2 separate regions of the Homo sapiens genome follow, and region 1 is linked to region 2. Evidence: fine-mapped expression QTL. A gene starts in region 2. The other region holds a variant in brackets. All regions are shown on one strand. Distances are from middle to middle. Region 1 holds the start of SLC25A4 (solute carrier family 25 member 4). Region 2 holds the start of CFAP97 (cilia and flagella associated protein 97).

Region 1 (4,388 bases), 61 kb before region 2:
CTCCAGCAGTAGTCAAGGAAGATTAAAAGTTTATACAAAAGGGAAACCTTGTCAAACTGTCAAATTAAATTGAATCATATGGAATATATACAGCTTCATAGTAATTAAGTAAATACAAACTAAAACTCATAAATAACTCACAAATAACCAACTCTCTATTTTTTTAAAGCCAGTGTTGGAGAAGAGTGTGAGAGAAAGCCCATCTATATAACTGGTGGGTTGGTATTTCTGAAGAGCAATTTGTCAATATGTAGCAAAAGCTACAAAACTTTAAAAATCTTAAATCTATCCATTCCATTTGGGAAATATATGAGAAGAAAAAACTTAGAGGAGAAAATGAAGTTTGTGTAAGTTTCAATGTAGCAGTATTAGTTTTCCTTCCTTCCTTCCTTCCTTCCTTCCTTCCTTCCTTTCTTTCTTTCTTTCTTTCTTTTTTTTTTTTTGAGTCAGAGTCTTTCTCTGTTGCCCAGGCTGAAGTGCAGTGGAGTGATCTCAGATCACCATGACCTCTGCCTCTCGGGGGTCTCGTGCCTGAGCCTCCTGAGCTGCTGGGATTCCAGGCATGAGCCATCACGCCAGGCTAATTTTTGTATTTTTAGTAGAGATGGGGTTTTGCCATGTTGGCCAGGCTGGTCTCGAACTCCTGACCTAGGTAATCTGCCAGCCTCAGCCTCCCAAAGGTATGAGCCACCACACCCGGCCTATTTTTCATCATAAAAATAAGACACAATTCTAATGCACAATTAAAAGGAAAATGGAGGTATAAAAGCAAGTGCTCTATATTACAGGATGGGATACAGTACACTATTATAATTAAAAAGGTTTACTGTGTGGATTATGCTGATCCATGGAAATCAGTAAGTGAAGTTTTGATAAAGTGGAGCAAGTGACGAATACACTGAACTGTAAGGTCTTTGGAGATGGGCCACGTCTACTTATATTCAATCCACAGGGCTACACCTAGTTCTTGGTACACAGTACATGCTCAGCAAGAGTCTGTTGAATGAACACATACATGGTTTATCTGTTTGTCTCTTCCGAGTTCTTGACTTCTGTCTGCTCTGACCTCTGGCAGCTTTCCACTAGTTTCTAGCTTTCATTCTGCTTACCTGGATTTCGGAACTCTAGCCTGCCCCACTCTTAGATAAACGCATGCCCTCTGTGGCCCTGGAACCTTAGTGACTTCTGCTATACCAAAGTCTCCACGCCCAGGGTGACACGCAGCTGCAGCTCCGTAAACCTCTAACATGATGTCAGCAAATATTAAAAAAAAAAAGTTTATAAAACAATGAATAAACTTTGTTAAAGGTACAAATGAAAATTAGCAAACATGGGAAGATAATTGAGTGAAGAGTTTAAAGTTAAAAACGAATTGCAGTCATTCTAGGGGAAGGAACAGTTGTATTTGAAAACCTGTATGGTTACATGAACTGCCTAAAAAACAAGCTAAGGAAAATTAAAGCTCAGATTTATATATTTTAAGAAATTAATTGCAATTAATTTCCTGGGATTAAATAGCATTTCCTCAACCCCAGCTGTCATTAAAAAGAGGCAAATACAGCCAAGGACTGGATCTCCGGAAGGCTGACAGCACTGACCCTCAAGAAGGCACCGGCTGACAGACAGAACATTCTGCCCTAATATGTGCTGAAATTCCGCTGAGAGCAGAGTGGTACATTGAACCCTTTAGGGGCTTACAAAAGAAGTGTCCTGTGTTTTAGAGTCACAGAGTTTTGCAGAAACAAGTATGAATTCACCTAGTGGCCCCCTGCACCAGGTCTTTCCTGTGGGCACTGAGTGCCAGACACATCAATATGTAATAGCAGAATGAATGACTGAACGAACGATTGAATGAAAAGAAATGAGAGGCAGCAGGTTGTCAGATTCTATGAGGCAATCACAGCATCAGGTGACCTTAGTATCTATTTGAGAGGACTGCCATTTATTCTCGGGAGCGCACGGCTCTAAAGAGGCCCATATCCAGGCAGTGAGCTCTGGTGGGGGGCGCCTTTAGATGCAAGAAGGAGGAAACAGCTCGAAATCCCTGGGCCTGAGCGCGGCCCGTGCAGGCCGGAGGGTCAAGAACTCTCCACCGGCGGCAGCGGCCCGGTGTCTGCCCCGGCTTCGCCCCGGCCTAAGGCTGCCTGTGCTATAAATACGCGGCCCACATGCCGCGGTGACACGGTGTTCCCTGGGCTCGGCGGGACAGATAACATGAATGTGCCCTTTAAACGTCCCAAGTTGCAGGGACAGCCCCCGGCCCAGCCTCGCTCCCGGAAGCGCCTTCGCCCCCGATGCCCTCTGCAGCTGGGAGGAGGGGGCGCCCCGCACCTGCCCAGCCAATGCGCGGCGCGAGCGCCGGCCGCGACCCGCCTCCTCTCGCGAGAGCCCGGCGGGGATATAAGGGGGAGCTGCGGGCCAGGCGGCGGCCCCCTAGCGTCGCGCAGGGTCGGGGACTGCGCGGCGGTGCCAGGCCGGGCGTGGGCGAGAGCACGAACGGGCTGCCTGC[G/A]GGCTGAGAGCGTCGAGCTGTCACCATGGGTGATCACGCTTGGAGCTTCCTAAAGGACTTCCTGGCCGGGGGCGTCGCCGCTGCCGTCTCCAAGACCGCGGTCGCCCCCATCGAGAGGGTCAAACTGCTGCTGCAGGTGAGGACCGCGCGGTGCAAGAGGCGGGCGCGGGCGCGGCGGGCCGGGCGGGGCGCGCGATGCGGCGCGAGCTGCAGGGCGCGGGGCGCCGCGGAAAATCTGCGCCAGGCCACAGGCCCGGGCGCCCGCCCGCCCGCCCGCCCGCCCGCGGGGGAAGAAGGTGCCCTCTGCGTAGAGACAGGTCCAGCGTCAGTCGCAGATTCCTGGTGTCGGGTGGCGCCCGGCGTTCGGGTGTCTATATATGGAAACCCACCCGGAGCCGGTTTACGTGTGCCAGATCCTGCGCCCGTGACAGCACGGGCGTGCACTCAGGCCCGGAGGCACCTAGTGATTGCCAGTATTTTTGGCACCGTCTTATGCGCACGCACCTTTACAATAAAAACATCAAAATAATCATCACCCAAGAATTCCCTTATCGTATCTCATGCACAATGCTGTATGTAGGCTGACGCCTTCATCTTTATGTAACCTCTGTGAGAGAGTTATTCTTCTCCATTTTACAGATGAAGCTGAGGTTTTGAAATATTAAGAAACAATTTTCGGAATAAACTCAGATCATCCTGTCTCCAAATCTTTTCCTCCCCTACCTGGTCGCTGAATGGTTTATCATCCTCTCGTGTTTTCCTCCACCTGCCCAAAAGGTCAGGGCCCCTCAATGAGGAAGAGCCCAATTTGGGAGTCAGAATTACTAACAACAAAACCCCCACAAATTGCTCACAACGGCAGCAAACCCTTAATAATTGATTACTTGGATTATCTGCTTGAAAACTTTGGAGGCCTAATGTTTAGTGGATTTATTCTCCTTCCTCTATTAGAGCATCTAGTAGAGATCCTCATCTCCAGGGTGATCAGAGTGACACTGAGAAATTGTCATTTTTTGGCCATCATGTCTATTAAATCCAAAGCCCTTTGAAGCAGGGAGTGTTACTCATTTCTGTCCCCCAGTAAGCCCCTCATACAGTTCTCAAACCTAGGGAAAGTGAAATAAATAAATGGCTATAGCTTTATATAATTCAATCACCTTTTCAGTTTATTTGGGGCAATACCTTTTCCCTCAAATACCCTAATAATTGAAGCAACATTGGATTATTTTGGCTTGTTATCCAGTAACTAACATGGATAACAGTATCCATTTACACGTCCTCAGTATCCATTTGATTTCCTCATCCTTTTTTTCTTCAAAAAAAAAATCTAGGAAGTGCAAACCTTTTTTTTTCTCCTGTCCTCTTCCCTTCTCTCTACCCTGCCTGTCCTCTGTCACCCACCCTCCCCTCCACCAGGTCCAGCATGCCAGCAAACAGATCAGTGCTGAGAAGCAGTACAAAGGGATCATTGATTGTGTGGTGAGAATCCCTAAGGAGCAGGGCTTCCTCTCCTTCTGGAGGGGTAACCTGGCCAACGTGATCCGTTACTTCCCCACCCAAGCTCTCAACTTCGCCTTCAAGGACAAGTACAAGCAGCTCTTCTTAGGGGGTGTGGATCGGCATAAGCAGTTCTGGCGCTACTTTGCTGGTAACCTGGCGTCCGGTGGGGCCGCTGGGGCCACCTCCCTTTGCTTTGTCTACCCGCTGGACTTTGCTAGGACCAGGTTGGCTGCTGATGTGGGCAAGGGCGCCGCCCAGCGTGAGTTCCATGGTCTGGGCGACTGTATCATCAAGATCTTCAAGTCTGATGGCCTGAGGGGGCTCTACCAGGGTTTCAACGTCTCTGTCCAAGGCATCATTATCTATAGAGCTGCCTACT
Region 2 (4,388 bases):
AGCCCTGTGTCATTGTAAAAATTAACATAAAATACGTATGCCTTTTCTCCTGTTAATCTGCCTTACAGCCCCAGCTGCAGACCCAGCTAAAGGAAAAAGGATTTTTGTTTTTCCCCCCATCCCCTACACTTGTCTCCTTGCCAGACTGGGAGCTCCTCGTCACTTCCTCATCTTTATAACCCCAGTACCCAAAGGAGAACCTGATGAATTTAGTCATTCAAAGAATGTTTATCCCACAAAGGAGTTTGGAGTTAGGAGATTTAAGATTGAGCCATGCTCTTTGCTACCCACGAGGGTAGAAAAATCGCCTTGTATGTGTGTGGCTGGGCATGGAGGCTCATGTGCGGTGGCTCATGTTACAGTCTCATGCCTGTAACTTTGGGAGGCCCAGGCAGGCAGACCACTTGAGCCCAGGAGCTTGAGACCAGCCTGGCCAACATGGCCAAACCCCACCTCTACAAAAAATACAAAAATTAGCCGGGCGTTGTAGCTCTCGCCTGTAGTCCCAGCTACTCCGGAGGCTGAGGTGGGAGAATCGCTGGAACCTGGGAGCTGAGGCTGCAGTGAGCCGAGATCAGGCCACTGCACTCCAGCCTAGGCAACAGAGTGAGATCCTATCTCAAAAAACAAACAAACAAAAAAAATCACCGGGTTTCAACCCAGTTTCCTTGATAGTTTCCTGCCATCTTCCCCCACCCCTCCGGAAGCACAAACCACAACTATGCCTTTATCTGCATTTCCATGATAAGGTCATGCAGTCCCCAAGAGCTGGAAGCCAGCTGCCTCCCTAAGTGGTCACAGTTCATGCGCCCTGGTGCATAGTCCGGTGCCTGTGAGACTTTTCAGGTTTAAATTTTAGTTAATAATATCCAACAGAGTTACTGTAAAGATTTCGACACTCATGTGACTTAATTTACAGGAAAATTTACCCAACAATCCCATCCACTGAGCAATTCTTTTGATAACATTTACTACGAGGTAAGTGATTCAATTTACCAGAGAATAAGAAAAATGACTTAATAAAGTAGTTAAGATTCTCTTTACAACAGACTAGGAAAGGATAAAATTAAAGGATAGTTCATCAGACCATAACAACCCTTTGGTGCTCAATCAAGACAGAGTTTTGCCAGGAGGGGCATGGCTCACGCCTGTAATCCCCGGACTTTGGGAGGCCAAGACAGGAGGATCGCTTGAGCCCAGGAGTTGGGAGGCTGCAGTGAGACATGATCGTGCCACTGCACTCCACCCTGGGCCACAGAGCGAGACCCTGTCTCAAAAAATAAAAATAAAAAAAAGAGACAGGTAAGTTTTTATCAAAGCTGCCTGAGAGTCACTGGGCACGCCCCACTTGCCAGGTCCTACAGACCAGCAATAACAAGACTAATGCTTTCACCAAACATCAGGAAAATACACAGAAAAGCACCGGGCACTTTTTAAACTGTCATCTTGTTACTGTGACAATACATTTCTGTAGTTAAACAGCACAGTAGGCCTCCAACAAGATGCCCAATTGGGTACATGAAAATCCCGGCCCAAATTAAACACCTGTTTCCAGGAACGCTAGGCTCTTGTCTACATCCCCTACCGTCCCCGGAAGGCAGATAACCCCTCGGGCCTCGTGGGTTAGGTTCGAGTCCCTACAAGTAGGAAGAAGTCGTCAGGGCCCGGCATGTGGTCGCGGCCCAATCTCAATTTAGGGCTGATCCTGACCCTCAAAGCCACCCGGAACGCGCGAGAGGGCGGGACCCGCCATTCTCACAGGGGACCGGGGTGGAACGGCGCCGCGACCCGCCGCCGCGGGCGCCCCTGTCGTGGGGGCGCGGTCTCCCACCGTCCGCGCAGGCTTCGTTAAACCCACCCCGAGTACTCGCCGCCGCCTGGGCTCCGGAGCGGGGAGACGGATGCGAACGGAAAGGAGCGTGGCGGGCGCCCCGCGAGCAGGGAGCCAGGAGCCGCTCGCGCGCCCCTCACCTGAGAGCCGCGGCCACCACAGCCCCACGCGCGGCGCTGGCGCACTCCCGCGGCCCTGAACGGGCTCCCGGCGCCGCGCGCCCGCGCTTCCGGAGGCGGAGAGAGCGGAAAGGGAAAGGAGGGGCGGCGTGGGGCCCGGCGCTTCGGGAGAGGCGGGGGCGCACGCCGGGCCTCGTGCGGCCCTCGCGGCGGGCGTCACAGAGCGCGGCGGGCAGGCGGCCAGGCCGGGGCTCCACGCGGGCGGAGTGGAGGCCGGGCCAGGGACGCGCACACTAGAAGAGCCGCGGAAGAAGGCGGTCCAGCCCGCGTGGTTGCCATGGCGCCCTAGAGGCGTTACTGCTGCTCCCGGCTGCCTAGGGCGGCGCGGGTAGGCCCCGTTGTTCTCGTGCGTTAATAGGGAAAGCTGCCTTGATTATCTTGTAATTCTCTACCAAACCAAGAATAAAAAAGAACGGCGGCTGTGTGTTTGTGATATTTTCTATCAGCAAATTTCAGTTCATACCACTAGTTAGTTCTGTGGACCAGAGGCTGGTTTCAGAATGGAAAGACCTTTGCCGAGTGGTAAACGAGGTGGGTAGTTAAAACAATCTAAGGTAAAAATGATCTCTGCAGAATATATTGAATACAATAACTTCTCGTTGAACTCTCAGGTATGGTAGGATGATGGCACCCCAAAAATGTGCACCTCCTAGTCCCCACAACACGTGAATATGTCACCTTATGTGGCAGACAGGATTTAGCTGATGTGATTAAGGATCAAAATGGGAAGATTAACCAGGATTATCCAGTGAACCCCATGGAATCACAAAGGTCCTTATAAGATGGAGACAAGAAGTTCAAAGTCAGTAGTGGGAGCTGTGAGCACAGAAGCTAGAGGTTGGAGTGATGTCAGAGGCAATGAGCCAAGGAGTGCAGGTAGAAGCTGCAAAAGGAGGAAACGGATTCTCTCCTGAAACCTCAGGAAGGAACTAGAGCCTGCAAATTTTGATTTTAGACTTAATACCTTAAGCACTGTAAGACAATACACCTGTGTTGTTTTAACTACTGAATTTGTAGTAATTTGTTATAGCAGCAATGGTATACAATCCAGTAGTTAATAAATATTGTTCACATCTAAGTGCAAAGAAGGGTAGGAAATATGGGTCTTACCCTGCCTGTCCCGGGGAGTTCCAGTAAGGATTGTCTATTTTCGTCCTTCACAATGCATTTTGTACTTGTTGGTCTTAATTACCAAAAGTATAATCAATTCTCTTTTTGTTGCCTAAAAGACAGCATTGGCTGGGCGCAGTGGCTCACCCCTGTAATCCCAGCACTTCGGGAGGCCGAGGCGGGTGGGGCCCCCTGAGAGGAGTTCAAGACCAGCCTGACTAATATGGTGAAACACTGTCTCTACTAAAAATACAAAAATTAGCTGGGCGTGGTGACGTGAGCCTGTAGTCCCAGCTACTCGGAAGGCTGAGACAGGAGAATCGCTTGAACTCCGGAGGTGGAGGTTGCAGCGAGCCGAGATCGTGCCACTGCACTCCAACCTAGGCAACAGAGTAAGACTGTGTCTCAAAAAAAAAAAAAGCAAGAATTTCACTTTCTTTTAAAGTGCTTAATAAAACTGTGTTGGCACCACTTTCCAGGGATAGTTGTTAAACTGTGGTTGGCCCGGCGCGGTGGCTCACGTTTGTAATTCCGCACTTTGAGAGGCTGAGGTGGGCGGATCACCTGAGGTCAGGAGTTCCAGACCAGCCTGGCCAACATGGTGAAACTCCGTCTCTACTAAAAATACAAAAATTAGCCAGGTGTGGTGGTGCACATCTGTAATCCCAGCTACTCAGGAGGCTGACGCAGAAGAATCGCTTGAACCCAGGAGGGAAATGTTGCAGTAAGCTGAGATCACGCCATTGTACTCCAGCCTGGGCGACAGAGCAAGCCCCTGTCTCTAAATAAATAAACAAACTGTGGTCAAAAGTTTATCTTACAAAGGACTTGAGTAGATATTTCTCCAAAGAAAATATACCAATGGCCAATAAACACATGAAAAGATACTCAACACCACTAATTAGGGAAATGCAAGTCAAAAACACAATGAGATACCGATGGCTTTAGTCAAAAAAATAGAAAATAAGGATTGGCAAGAATGTGGAAAGATCGAAACCCTTATGCATTGCTTGTGAGAATGTAGCATACTCAGCCACTGTGGAAAATAGTATGGCATGTTCTGAAAAACTTGAACATAGAATTATATGACCCAGCAATTTCCCTTCTGGACATACACTAAAAGGAAGTGAAAGCAGGGTCTCAAACAGATACTTATGCACCCATGTTCATAGCAGAATAGCCAAAAGGCGGAAAAAACTCAAGTGTTTGTTTATCAACAGACAGATGAAGCAGAATGTAGTAGATACATAAAATGGAATATTATTCAG

The links.
Region 1: its variant is fine-mapped to the expression of CFAP97 in whole blood (TOPMed, PIP 0.94).

Annotation. Positions count from the first base shown.
Region 1 is chr4:185,140,839-185,145,226 of GRCh38, forward strand. SLC25A4 (solute carrier family 25 member 4) reads left to right here and starts at 2,428. Exons shown (of 4, transcript NM_001151.4): 1 at 2,428-2,645; 2 at 3,926-4,388. The coding sequence starts at 2,535. RefSeq lists a silencer at 2,200-2,499. The variant G/A (reference allele first, on the strand shown) is at 2,510.
Region 2 is chr4:185,201,927-185,206,314 of GRCh38, forward strand. CFAP97 (cilia and flagella associated protein 97) reads right to left here and starts at 2,074. Exons shown (of 5, transcript NM_020827.3): 1 at 1,972-2,074. It also overlaps a transcript of SNX25 not described here. RefSeq lists silencers at 1,607-2,376, 1,986-2,157 and enhancers at 2,917-3,026, 3,137-3,226.